2 linked regions of the Homo sapiens genome follow. Each later gene encodes a partner of the first gene's protein in a complex. Links are inferred from orthologs where the notes say so. Each region holds a gene or a part of one and is shown in the gene's direction. Other genes may lie near its edges.

Region 1 (7,025 bases):
AGTAGTTGCCCTCTTAATAATGACTTGTGCTTGCCCCTTTTTAAATCTATTTCCAATTGATGTATAGAAAAAGATGAAAAATATATCCATGTAGTTATGAATTTCAGATGTATGTCTGTAGATGAACAGACATTAATATATATAACCATGGCAAAAATAGTTTGATGACAAGTAATTATAATCTCTCTCTCTGGCCATCATTGGCGAGTGCAGTGTTGAGCTAAAAGTGACCCAGAGGAGGTGAACTATAATTTACTTGAGTTAAGAAGGATAAAAATTGGAGCAAACTTTCCAGCCAAAGCAGTTAATTCCCCCAACATAGTAACTTACTTAAATTCAAGTAGAGTGGGTAGATCTATTGAAATGAACTTTACTCTGCTGTGCATGTTACAATGTATTAAAGTATTGCTTCCAAAGAGAACAGAAGAGTGAACATTTAAAAATTTTATTTTAAGAAAGAAATCTGATTACTCTGTGATATTTTTTAAACAATAAAGAGATTTTGCTCTTAAAGTGTTTGAATCTTAACTAATTTTAGTAATTGAACTGAGATGGGTGAGTTCTTTCTTAATACCCTATGGCACTATATTTGAACATTGTTTTTTTAATTATTATGGTTCTGTGGGAAAGTAAGGAAAAGGGATGAGCAGAAACTATACAGTTAGTACTTTATTGTGAAGTTCCTTTTCCTCTAGTGATGGGAGTGAATTCTTAAGTGGGGAATGTTTTCCTCTGGTGCAAAGATTCTGTTACACGAAATAGGCTTCCTGAAGAATTTTAAAGTAGTCTTTTTGCAATTAGTTGCTTACTTTACCATTCACAGAGAGGGAATGATCTGTTGTGAATCCTGTCACTTTATGGCTGTCCTCAGAATTGTACCAAGAAAGTATTACAGCAAAATGATTCAGATTCAGACATGACATCAGATCTGTTTAGAACCCTAGTTCTGCTACTTACTAGATGTGCAGTCATGGACAATTGCTTGGCCTTTCTAGGCCTGTCTCCTCCATCGGTAGAATGGGGGTGAGAGAGTAATAATTTCAACCTTATAATGTAAAAATCAGTGAAATAAAACATGTAACACACTAGCACCCTTCTTACACAGAGAAAACACGTGATATACTAGCCATTAATGATATTACTGCTGCTGCTGAAGACAACAGTTGGTAAGATTAGCTAGGACCCCGCTCTTCAGACTTTGTCATGTTAATTGAACTCTTAAATCTTACACTTCAATTCTTGCTTCCTTTCTGTTCCTAGACTAGAATTAGGTAAATTTCTCTTGATGAACACATTTGAAAGGAGGTAAGTGATTAGGGCCTTTTGGATATGAATTTGGAACTGGGCTTTGAACTCAGGATCCCAAGGGGGGCAGTCGGAGGAGAGAAGTGAAAGTGGTGTCGGACAAGGCAGGTGTCCTTTCTGGAAGGAAATGCCTGAGTCTAGTGGATTGGTTATGCCAAGCCCTGGAGGATTGTCTAGACCATCTAGACTTAGCCACGTGTAGATGAAGGCATAAACATACTTCTGTGATTCTCTCTTGCCTTTGCAAGGTGGTTGCAGTGAGATAATTCAGAAAAGTTGGCTTTTGTTCATGAATATTGTGGTTTGCTTAAAATATATTTGGCTTTAGAGCTGTAATATCTACGTGTAGCTATTGAGCACCTGAAATGTGGCTGTTGCTACATTGTGAAATGATAATATTTTAGATATATGCAATTACGTATTATTGAAATTAAAAACATTATTAAAACTAATTTCACTTGTTTCTCTTAAAAGTTTTTTATTTTTGAAAACTTTAAAAAATACTGCTACAAGAAAATTTAAAATTGCATGTGTGACTTGCATTATATTTCTGTTGCTCTAGAGGGTTACAGTTGAAGGGATGGTTCCAGTCCTGATTCAGGAACTCACTGCTACAATAGTTTGTTCCTTGTTAGGATTCAGGCTACCTCAAAATCTGCTTCATGAGCTGCTGGGCAAGGTCCAGCTTTTTCAATTGAGCATACAGGGAAGATAGTCTTTAGCAGTTACTGATGGCCCAGTTATGTCTCATAAAAAATTTAAGCATTTAGGGCCGGGCGCGGTGGCTCACACTGTAATCTCAGCACTTTGGGAGGCCAAGGCGGGCAGATCACGAGCTCAGGAAATCGAGACCATCCTGGCCAACATGGAGAAACCCCGTCTCTACTAGAAATACAAAAATTAGCTGGGTGTAGTGGCACGTGCCTCTAATCCTAGCTACTCAGGAGGCTGAGGCAGGAGAATTACTTGAACCAGGGAGTCAGAGGTTGCAGTGAGCCAAGATTGCGCCACTGCACTCCAGCCTAGTGACACAGTGAGACTCTGTCTCAAAAAAAAAAAAAAAAATTAAGCTTTTATGGGGTTGTATTCATCTTTGAATAATATACATTCATATAAACAATTGTGTGTGTGTATGCATCTATAGATCTATATATCTGTATGTTGTCTATATATTGGTCAATTTAGTCAACCTAAGTAATGGCTTCAGTCTTTTGTTTTTGTTTTTTTTTTTTAAATAAACTTTTTATTTTAGAACAGTCTGAAATTTACAGAAAAATCACAAAGATAGTACGGAGAATCCCATATACCCCATGCCCAGTTTTCTCTGTGATTAACATCATGTTAATATGGTACATTTGTTACAGCTAGTGAGCCCATATTGATACATTATTATTAACTAAAGGTCATACTTTATTCAGATTTCGTTTTGTTCTGTTTGTTCTTTTTACCTAATGTCCTTTAACTATTCCAGGATCCAATCTGGGACACTGTAAAACATTTAGTACTCATGGATTTTTAGGCCCCTCATGGCTATGACAGTTTCTCAAACTGTCCTTGTTTCTGATGACTTTACAGTTTAGAAGAGTACTGGTCAGATATTTTCTAGAAGGTTCCCTCAACTGGGATTTGCTCAATGTTTTTCTCATGATTAGATTGGAGTTCTGGGTTTTGGGGAGGAGGACCACAGAAGTAAAGCATCATTTTCACCACATACCAAGAATACATACTGTCAACATGACTTATCACTACTGATGTTAACCTTTATCACGTGGCTGAGGTAGTGTTTGCCAGGTTTCTCCACTGTAAAGTTACTGTTTCCCTCCCTTTTCCATACTATTTGGAAGAAAATCATATATGCATAGCCTATACTTAAGGAGTGGAGAGTTACACTCTACCTCCTTGAAGCCAAGTAATTACGTGAATTATTTGTAATTCTTTTATGTAAGAGAGATTTATCTATTCATTTATTTACTTATTCAGTCATTTACATCAGTATGGACTCATAGATACCTATTTTATCCTTTGTGTTATATTCCAATACTACTTTATTTTCATGTTGCTCAAATTGTTTTAGCGTTGACCATTGGGAGCCTTTTTTTTAATTTGGCTTCTGTGTCCTTTTGGTATACCCCCATCATTTTGGCTTTTTTCTTTTCTTTTTTTTAAGGACTATATTGCTTTCTGATAGTATAAGATACTCCAGGATCATCTTCTCTATTTCCTGTTTCAGTGCTAGAATCAGCCCTTTCTCTGAGGAATCCTGTTTCCTTTAATTAAAGAAGGGTATTAGAAACCAAGATCTGGACAGTAGGTGTGCACATTACTCCCGGGGTGTTGTTGCCTCTGGAACCTCTCAGCTGACAAAGCAAGGAAATTCACATGTATATACTAAGCCATGTATATGAACATATCTACAAGCATTTGCATATGTAATCATTTGTATATATAGTATGTTAAACACAAGTTCATACTAGTATCTCCAGCTCTAATCCATTATCAGATGGATCATTCTGTAATTGCTTTATTTCAACACTGACCATTCTATACCATGTTACACAGGGTAGCATCAGTAATATACCCATTTAAAAATTATCTGTTCCTCTCTTAGTGGTTTGACCCTACATTTCTAAGTACATACATAATTTCTGCTGCTAGTTTTATTTTAACATATCTACATTGCACAAAGACAGGTACAAGTAACTGAATTCAAGTGAGCCTTGACACTTTAATGAGGGTGTTCTGTGCTGATTAAGCACTTCTGTAAATATCAAGAATTATACTATGCAAAGACTTGTTTGTACGTCAGCACTAAGAACTTCTATTGAGTAGGAAATGAGAGGCCAAGATGGGAGGATCACTTGAGCCCAGGAGCTCAAGATCAGCCTGGGCAACATAGTGAAGCCCCATCTCTACAAAATAAAATTGAATTTAAAACTAGCTGGGCATAGTGGCACGCACCTGTCATCCCAGCTACTCAGGAGGCTGAGATGGGAGGACACCTTGAACCCAGGAGTTTGAGGTTACAGTGAGCTATGATCATGCCACTGCACTCTAGCCTGGGTGACAGAGCGAGATCTTGTCTCTAAATGAAAAAGAAAACTAATTAAAAATGTATTGAGTAGGAAAGAAAAGATCATACATACTATGCTAAGACTTATGTGTATGTACATCAGCACTTATCAAGCTTATAGACCAAAAAAAAAAAAAAAAGTGGGAGACTGTTTATATATTAAATAGTATATTTTATATAATACATATAGCAGTTACGAGCTCAGTTCAGGACAACAGACCCACCCCATTAGAGTTCCAACTCTGCTATTTATTAGTTGTTGAACTTTCAGGAAATAATTTAGTATCTCTGATCTTATTTAATGGCTTGAGAAAGGGATAGTAATAATACCTCAAAAAGGTTGTTTTAAGGATTGACTATAACAATGTTAAACACAGAGCACCATGTACATTAATGATAGCCCTTAGTTACAAAGGTCTGAATCCTAGGTACATGTTGTTTGAAAGGGGATGTCATTTGGGGTGGGCAGAATGAATCTCTTTTGGGAATTACATGTAAATGTTGCCAGGTTACCAAAACTTCGTGTTGGTAGGTATTTCCAAGGTCATCTAGTTCAGTTCCCTCCCCTTCCCTCCTCCCCTCCTCCCCTCCCCTCCTCCCCTCACCTCCCCCCTCCCCTCCCCTCCCCCCTCCCCTCACCTCCCCTCCCCTCCTCCCCTCCCCTCCCCTCCCCTCCCCTCCCCTCCTCCCCTCCCCTCCCCCTCCCCTCCCCTCCTCCACTCCCCTCCGCTCCTCCTTCCCTCCTTCCCCCCTTCCCCCTTCCCCCTTCCCCCTTCCCTTCTTCCCTTCTTCCCTCCTTCCCTCCTTCCCCCCTTTCCCCCTTCCCCCCTTCCCCCTTCCCTTCTTCCCTCCTTCCCTCCTTCCCTCCTTCCCTCCTTCCCTCCTTCCTTCCTCCCTCCCTCCCTCCTTCTCTCCTTCCTTTGTTCCTTTCCTTCCTTTGTTCCTTCCCTTCACTTCCCTTTCCTTCCTTCCTTCCTTCTCTGCTCCCTCCCTTCCTCCCGCCCTCCTTCTCACCTTGCTTTGTTCTTTCCCTCCTTCCTTTGTTCCTTCCCTCCTTCTCCCCTCCCTCCCTTCCTCCCTTCCTTCCTTCCTTCCTTCCTTCCTCATACTTTACCCCTAAATCATCACTTTTGAGATTTGCCTTCTTAAAAACATGAGGAACACTATAAGGACCAATCAAAGAATGTCTCAGTTCCATCATTATTTCTGACAGCACCATCACAAAATGAATTTTATGAAAAGAAAATGATCTAATTGTGTTAACTCCACCTCTATTCCAATTTAATTATTTTTTTCGTGAAGGGAAATTTGTCATTTCAAATGGGAAGATTTGCCCCAGTCCTCACTAAAATGAGCTGTTTTTCCCCCTCAGTTTCTCTGTGAGTAATAAGTATGTTGCTGCGTGCTAAGACTGACTCATTTATTCTGTAAGCACTTAGTGGCCCCTACCATGTACAGCTCTCTATGCTAAATACAGAGTTTGGACACGATTTGTCAAGAGTAGTCTCTGCCTTCAAGGAGCCGGCAATGAGCCTGAAGAGGAAACTGCAGGCCAGGTGCAGTGGCTCACACCTGTAATCCCAGCACTTTGGGAGGCCGAGGCAGGTGGATCACTTGAGGTCAGGAGTTTGAGATGACCCTGACCAACATGGTGAAACCTCATTCTACTAATATAATACAAAAATTAGCTGTGTGTGGTGGCGCATGCCTGTAGTCCTAGCTACTCGGGAGGCTGCAGCAGGAGAACCACTTGAACCTGGGAGGTGGAGGTTGCCGTGAGCCAAGATTGCACCACTGCACTCCAGGCTGGGTGACAAAGTGAGAGTCCATCTCAAAAAAAAAAAAAAAAAAAAGAGGAAACTGTAGAACCTAATTTTTAATGACCGTTGTACCCCCTAGAGCCGAGCATAGAACTCTAGGAATTCAAAGGAAATGAGGTATGTCTCAGGACCTCGCCTAGAAGGATAGGTGGGGTTTGGACAGACAGAAACAAGCAAAGACTATATTATAAGAGGTTGCAATAAATGGATGCAGTGGGCATCTGTTGCACCCAGCAGCTTTCATTCTATCTACTCAATTTCCTATTGAGGAACTACTTAAACCCCCTTATTCCAGTCTTGATAGAACTGACAGGCTGCCCTGCCCTCTGTAGGTCAAGAGGTGAACATATTACCTAAGCAAGGACATTTATAGAATTTTTGCCAGGAATTTGATCAGAATGAACCAAGGAAAGAGAATAGTTAGAGCCGCTCAAGACTTTGCTTTAGCAGAGACTGTAAGTTCCTATTTCCTTGGTATCCTGAGCTACTCCTCATACTTGTCTTTCCCAAGCTGGGTGGCTCATTTTTGTCCATTGATCCTATGAGCCACCCCACATTATTCTAACAAATTATCTTTTTTGAATTAGTTTAGCCAGAATCACTTCTGTCGCATTCAGCCAAAGAACCCTAAATGGTAGCTTAACAAAGATTTAGAGAAGAAAAAAACAAGATTTGTTTGGGTAGCAATGAACAGTCTGTCTGTAGACTGCATACTAGAAACCTTGTAGTTGGAAATAAAGTTGGAAAGGATGCTCGGCTCTGAAATGTCGAGGACCTTAACTGCTAAGCTCAACTGACCCACCAAAGCCAAATTTTAGGAAGATTAAATG
Region 2 (6,866 bases), on another chromosome or scaffold:
TGGACATGGTGGCGCATGCCCATATTCACAGCTACTTGGGAGGATGAGGCAGGAGAATTGCTTGAATCACGAGGTGGAGGTTGCAGTGAGCCAAGATCGTGCCACTGCACTCCAGCCTGGGCGACAGAGTGAGACTCCATCTCAAAAAAAAAAAAAAATCAGTAAGTAACTTCCAGTGATGAGGGAAATGGATTAAAAAGGAGCATAAGTCAAGGAAACTTTCTGGGGTGATGATAAAAATGTTTTATCTCTTGATTTGGGTGTGGCAGTTACATGGATGTGTACAAGTGTCAAAATCCATTGAGCTGAACACTTACTATCTGTGCATTCGATTGTATATCAATTATAACTCAATAAAAATTAAATGTAAGGGCTGGGTGTCATAGCTCACTCCTGTAATCCCAGCACTTTGGGAGGCCGAGGTGGGTGAATTGCTTGAGCCCAGGAGTTTGAGACCAGCCTGGGCAACATGGCAAGACCACATCTCAACAAAAAAATACAAAAATTAGCCAGGTGTGGTGGTGCGTGCCTGTAGTCCCAGCTACTTGGAGGCCTGAGGTAGGAAGATGGCTTGAGCCAGGGAGATTGAGGCTGCAGTGAGTCGAGATCACGCCACTGCACTCCAGCCTGTCTCCGAAAAAAAAAAACAAAAAGTAAATAAGTATAGAAAAATGCTGCTTGGTCCTAAAAATGCTCCTATGAACTATACCTGATTTTTGGAACACGCATAGTTGGGTATATAGTTAGGAGTAGAATTGCTGGGTCAGAAGGTGCATGGGAATCCTGGCTCTGTCACTTAACAGCTGTATGACATTAGGCAAGTACCCAGAATCTCTAGTTTCTTTATCCGTACCAAGGAGCTAATATCGCCTTGATGGGTGCAAACCCATGAAGACTACTTTCGTTAATTAACAAAAGTATGTAGAGCTGAGAGACATTTTCTCTAAAGCCATAGATTTTTAGAAAATTTGTTGCTCAAATTATCAGTAAGAATGGAATATATCACTCTTACCTGGAGGATCAGTTACTTTGATGCAGAAGAGCAGCCTCAATTTCTAACGCAGGTGCAGAGCTTCAGATAAGGGGTTTCCAGACACAACATTCCACATTTATCTTGGCATCATGGTTTCCAAGGAAACAGGATCTTGTTAGCTGGGGCCTGATGATAATCCCTTTACACATAGCCTGGTGTGTTTGGGGGCTATCAAAACACTGCTTCTTTAAAAATTTATCTACATTTCTTTCCCCCAAATCCTGGAATAACTCACTGTCTTCCTGTGTTTTGTGACATGCTCCATGATTCTTTTGGTGTGCAGTTTCCCTTGCAGCAGCAAGTTAATAAACTTAACTTTGTCTGACTACAGGTGGTCTTTATCAGATGGGCTTTATCTTGGAGATTACTGATAACGTACACAAAATGTGTTCATACTGCCTGGCACCTAACAGGCATTTAAGCAATGATAAAATTATTATTTTTATTATTCATGTGTTAATTCAATAAATGTTTGTTTGACATCCAGTATTTGCAAGGCACAGATTTACTGCTATGAGAGATGCTCACTGCAACCTCTGCCTCCCTGGCTTAAGCTACACTCCTGCCTCAGCCTCCCGAGTAGCTGGGACTACAGGCTCAGGCCACTATGCCCAGCTAATTTTTGTATTTTTGGTAGAGATAGGGTTTTGCCATTTTGCCCAGGCTGGTCTCGAACTCCTGAGCTCAAGCAATGATCAGCCTGCCTCAGCCTCCCAAAGTGCTGGAATTCCAGTTGTGAGCCACCGCGCCCAGCCTAAAAACCACTTTTATTTTACATGGAGAAAGAAAACAATATTTTTAATTCCTAAAAGAAAAATATCTTTACTGAACTTCACTTTAAATAGTGTCAAATGTAAATGAAAAAAATCATCAGTACTATTATATAGGTAAAAAAGTGCAATTTACATGACTTGCTTAAGATTTGACATAAAACTACAGATTCTAAGAAACGGTAAGGTTTTATAATAATAACCAAAACAGGCTGGGTGCGGTGGCTCACGCCTGTAATCCCAACACTTTGGGAAGCCGAGGCGGGTGGATCACCTGAGGTCAGGAGTTCGAGACCAGCCTGGCCAACATGGTCAAACCCCATCTCTACTAAAAATACAAAAAGTACCCGGGCGTGGTGGTACACGCCTGTAATCCCAGCTACTCGGGAGGCTGAGGCAGGAGAATCGCTTGAACCCAGGAGGCGGAGGTTGCATTGAGCCGAGATTGCGCCATTGCACTCCAGCCTGGGCAACAGAGCAAGATTCTGTCTCAAAAATAAAATAAAATAAAATAACCAAAATAAGAGTCCCCAAATGTCATCCGTCTCTTTCTAGAGACAGGGAAAAAAAATGCTCTCATAAATTCTCCAACGAAAAATAGAGATAGTCACCCTTAAAAAATCCTAAGGCTGGTGGGTGGATTGCTTGAGCCCAGGAGTTTGAGACCAGCCTGGACAACATGGCCAAACCCCAACACTACAAAAAATATAAAAATTAGCTGGGCGTGGTGGCGCACGCCTGTAATCCTAGCTACTCAGAGGTTAGGTGGTAGGACCTCCTGAGCCCAGGAGAAGGAGGATGCAGTGAGCAGAGATCGCGCCACTGCACTCCAACCTGCGTGACAGAGCGGGACCCTGTCTCAAAAAAAATAAAATAAAGAAAAAATCCTAAGGCCATATACAGGCTCATTCACTTTGGGTCTCCTTTCATCCAGGCAAGCAGCTTTCTGTCTTTGCATTTTCCAAAGACTACAAAGCAGGCTGGGGTGGGGTGGGGTGGGGTGTAGAACACAGGAAACGCAGCCAGTTCCCCTTCACTTCTCACTATCTTGATCTCCTCCCAAACCAAAATCCTATGTCTTTCCTTTTAACATAGGCTTACAAAAATGCAGTTTTCTGTGGGAACATTGAGGTCATGCATTCCAAATTACTTAAGGGAACGATTTTTAAATTTTAGGAATCTAGTTCTCCAAGATATCCCGGCTTGGGATATAGATGAACGAGCTATTTGGGAGAGATTTAGACGAGAATGAATTTTAGAGAAGTAGCGAGGTGAGGAGAGAGTCAGCTTAGCGTTTGGGTTTTGCAGTCAAATTTCAGCAAGGCGAACTAACCTCGCTGGTCTTAATTTTCTCATCGGTAAGAGGGAAAATAATAATGCTTACTTTGATGAATTACTTTACTTCAACATTTAAAAAACCGACTCTCCGTTATCTATTCTAATGATAAAAATATAGATAGAGCATCGTCCCCTGCTGTGAAAAATCTTATGAACAAGTGAATTGCGGTGAGGATTCACATAGTATGTGCTCAATAAACATTATTTTATTGTTTAGATTAGAAGAGGGGTGGAGGGAGAAATGAAAGTGGTTTGGAAACCCCAAACACTACCAAAGCCCTGGGGATGGAAGTAGAGAGGAATTTCGGGTTACGATTTGGTTCCGGGTCTGAGTTTCAACGTTGAATTCTCCCATATTTGGGCCTGAATTCTCAGAACAGAATAGGATGTAAGGGCTGAGATCATCTGGTACAGTTTTATGCAAATCGAAAATTCTTGCCTCTTGTCACTGTGCCCTGGCGAGAAACAACACCTCCACCCAAGCTCATCCAATCTCAGCCCCAACTAGGTGACGTCATCTCCCCGCCCTGCATCCCCAAGCCTCGGGGAGTCCTGTCTCTAAGCTACAGTCCCAGCTCCAGTCCCAGCTCCAGTCCCAGCGGCGCCTGCGCACTTTGGACCGGGGCGGGGAGGACGCGTGCGCGCCGCGTGAGGGCGGGGCTAGTGCGCACGCAGCCTTAGCTCCTTCCCCGCCCTTGCTCTTCCCAGTTTCTCCGTCAGCCTGCGGGTCCCGGCTGGCGGCTGCTTCCGGTAGGAGAGCGGTGTAGAGCGAGCAGGTCTCAGCTCCTCGTCATGTCATACGGTCCCTTAGACATGTACCGGAACCCGGGGCCCTCGGGGCCCCAGCTCCGGGACTTCAGCAGCATCATCCAGACGTGCAGCGGCAACATCCAGCGGATCAGCCAAGCCAGTGAGCCGGGGTACCGAGCTGGGGGGCGGGAGCTGTCCCGGGGACAGGCCTGGGTGAGGCTGCCGGGACGCAGGGCCCGGCTGGGGCTACGGCCGAGGCCACACCTGGGGCTGTCTCGGGCTGTCCACCCTGGGGGCGGTGGGCTGCCATCCCCCAATCTGTCAGGCCCGGGTTGCCCGAGGGTCCCCGGCCCCAGCTGAAGCTTGAGCTGCTTCTCTGGAGTTCTGCCCCCACGGTGCTGGGACCAAAACAGCCGACTTGACAGCCCGAGGGTGGGAAGGGGAGTGTGTGTCACCTCGAGAGCTGTGAGTGCGTTGACTTGGCGCAGTGGTCAGCCGAGTTTCTCCTGTCACCCACCTTCCTCCCCACCCACCTCGCTTTCCTCTTAGACCAGTTTGGATGGGGTTGTTTACTGATTTAGCCTTTAGGTTTACATTCTGCTCAGCCCCTGGCTCCTCGGAAATCAGCAACTTTCAATTAAGGGAAGTGGAGAGTGCATGTGTTTGGGTGACTTCATACACAGTTCTTCCTGTAATGAATTCGGAAATCAGACACAATGACTGGTATTTGAAAGGTGGGATGACTTCATTTTAATAAAGAGAATTCACCAACAGCATTTCAATTTACATTATTTTGTCTTTTGTAACAAATAATTGGGGTGTATTTTTGGATTTCAGGCAGATGAGGCTTTTGTTTTCCTTCCCTACTTAGCTGCTCTTGAACAAATCTGGTACACAGGGAAGCTAAGACACTTAGCCACAACCACATAGCAAGTAAGGCATGGTAGAGTTGTTGGTGGAATTCAGAATGCTATTGCTTGTCTTAAAACTCCCTCCTCCCCATTAGGGTCTGAGTGAAACTGTAGCTGAATGAGTCAAATACAGGGTGTTTCTTGTGCTTGAAAATCATCTTGGAGCCTTATAAACAGGAGATCAGCAGCAGCTTTACTTGGAAAGAATGGTGGTCATCATCCTTGTTGTTTATTATTGTTTTGTGAGCTTGGCGTACTCTGTTAATAGGTAGAACTAGTTAGTCCTGAATTACAATTATATTCTATATTTTAAAGAGTGTCACTTTGCTTTCGTTTTTAAACTTTTAAAAATTTTTCTTTTTTGTAGAGATGAAGTCTTGCTATGTTGGCCAGGCTGGTCTCAAACCCCTGGGCACAAGCACTTCTCCCACTTTAGCCTCCCAAAGTGCTGGGATTACAGGCGTGAGCCACTGTGCCTAGCCTAATTTTTTTGATTTAAAATATTTTTAATTTATTTTTTCGAGACAGAGTCTACTTCTGTCACCCAGGCAGAATGCAGTGATCTGAGTGAAGTGGTACAATCCTAGCTCACTATAACCTTGAATTCCTGATCAGCTTGCTGAGTAGCAAGGACTACAAGGATGCATCTACCGTGCCAGGCTAATTTTTAAATTTTTTGTAGGGATGGGGTCTCACTATGTTGCCCAGGCTCACTTTGCTTTTAAATCTAAATGTATATTGTAGAATTTGAGAAGTAGAAAGTTTCTGATCAAAAGGGATTGAGACTCTGGAAGTGAAAGGAAGAATATGTGGCCTGTTAAAATCCAGAAGTAAAAAAAATTAATATGACCACTGGTTAGAAAGTATAGTACTGTTTGTTCCAGTTTCCTTTTGTGAAGGAGCTGTAATACAGGTTAGATCAGAAAATTCTAGTTCAAGGCTGAAATTTTCTTGTTGAAGCTAAATCTAATTTTAATATCTATTTGCGAAATATTCATTCAACATGTATCCATCTATCCATCTTCGTGTGTATTTTATATATATATAAAACCAGAATACTCCCAAAGGTAGATCCGACATACAGTTTTAAATTTAAATTTAAATTTTTATTTTGAGACAGGGTCTCACTCTGTCACCCAGGCTGGTATGCAGTGGCATGATCTCAGCTCACTGCAGCCTCAACCTCCCTGGCTCAAGCAGTCCTCCTGCCTCAGCCCTACAAGTAGCTGGGACTACAGGTGTGCACCACCACGCCCGGCTAATTTTTATATTTTTTGTAGAGATGGAGTTTCACCATGTTGTCCAGTCTGGTCTTGAACTCCTGTGCTCAAGTGATCCACCCACCTTGGCCTCCGAATAGGCCAGGATTACAGGCATGAATCATCATGCCTGGCCTTCAACATATATTTATTTGAGTATGTAGTAAGTATAAGAACTGGCATGGATCTTTCAACAGGGAACCTGCAGAGTTCATAACCAAAATATAAAGTTGAAAGGGATTGGTGCTATAGAAGACATATAAATAACATGCAGGTATTCTGGGAAGAGAGAGATTGTTTTTAATTGAGAAGGCATTATGGCATTTGAGTTATGTCTGGAAAGAGGATGGAAAGATTTGGACCTTCGAAGGTAAAGAGGAGAAGAGCATTCCAGGAGGGAATAAAATGAACAGGCATCATAGTGGGGAAGCATAGAGTATATCTAGAAGAGTAATTTAATTTGGCTAGAGTGGTGGATTCCAGAAAGTAGTGGGAAAAAAGGATTGAAAGGTAAATTGTGGCCCAAACATGAAGGATGTTAAATGCTAAGCTAAGGGGCTTGGATTTAGTTATTTAGGAAAGTGCGAATTGAATTCAAAGGGAGAGACTGGAATCAGAGATACCAGTTAGGGCTGTGAAAATGAAAAGAAAGGAAAGGATAGGAGAGGTTTCCTTGGTGATAGAATTGGTAAGATTTAGCTATTGATTGGGCATTGGGCCTCAGGGGATCATTTAAGTCAACTGTTAGTAATATTAATAGCTAACATTTGAGTACATACTGTGTTCCAGGCAGTATGAAAAGTGC

Evidence for each region.
Region 2: the proteins of VTI1A (region 1) and STX12 are in contact, whole or in part, in a crystal structure (PDB 2NPS), measured with the Rattus norvegicus proteins. The link is inferred for Homo sapiens from one-to-one orthologs. Residues at the interface, in XP_038945999.1 of Rattus norvegicus: Arg131, Arg134, Ser135, Arg138, Leu139, Ala141, Gly142, Ile145, Ala146, Glu148, Thr149, Ile152, Gly153, Met156, Asn159, Leu160, Asp163, Arg166, Arg169, Ala170, Arg173, Leu174, Glu176, Thr177, Asn180, Leu181, Lys183, Ser184, Ile187, Leu188; in NP_075228.2 of Rattus norvegicus: Glu185, Ile188, Gln189, Leu191, Glu192, Ile195, Leu196, Val198, Asn199, Phe202, Lys203, Leu205, Ala206, Ile209, His210, Gly213, Ile216, Asp217, Glu220, Val223, Glu224, Ser226, Glu227, Val230, Glu231, Ala233, Ser234, Asp235, Leu237, Gln238.

Annotation. Positions count from the first base shown.
Region 1 is NC_000010.11:112,450,214-112,457,238, forward strand, and holds part of VTI1A (vesicle transport through interaction with t-SNAREs homolog 1A), read left to right. Parts: exon of another isoform or gene 1-513; intron 514-7,025. UniProt on the Homo sapiens protein: V-SNARE that mediates vesicle transport pathways through interactions with t-SNAREs on the target membrane. These interactions are proposed to mediate aspects of the specificity of vesicle trafficking and to promote fusion of the lipid bilayers.
Region 2 is NC_000001.11:27,769,375-27,776,240, forward strand, and holds the start of STX12 (syntaxin-12), read left to right. Parts: upstream 1-3,844; 5' UTR 3,845-3,933; coding exon 3,934-4,051; intron 4,052-6,866. UniProt on the Homo sapiens protein: SNARE promoting fusion of transport vesicles with target membranes. Together with SNARE STX6, promotes movement of vesicles from endosomes to the cell membrane, and may therefore function in the endocytic recycling pathway.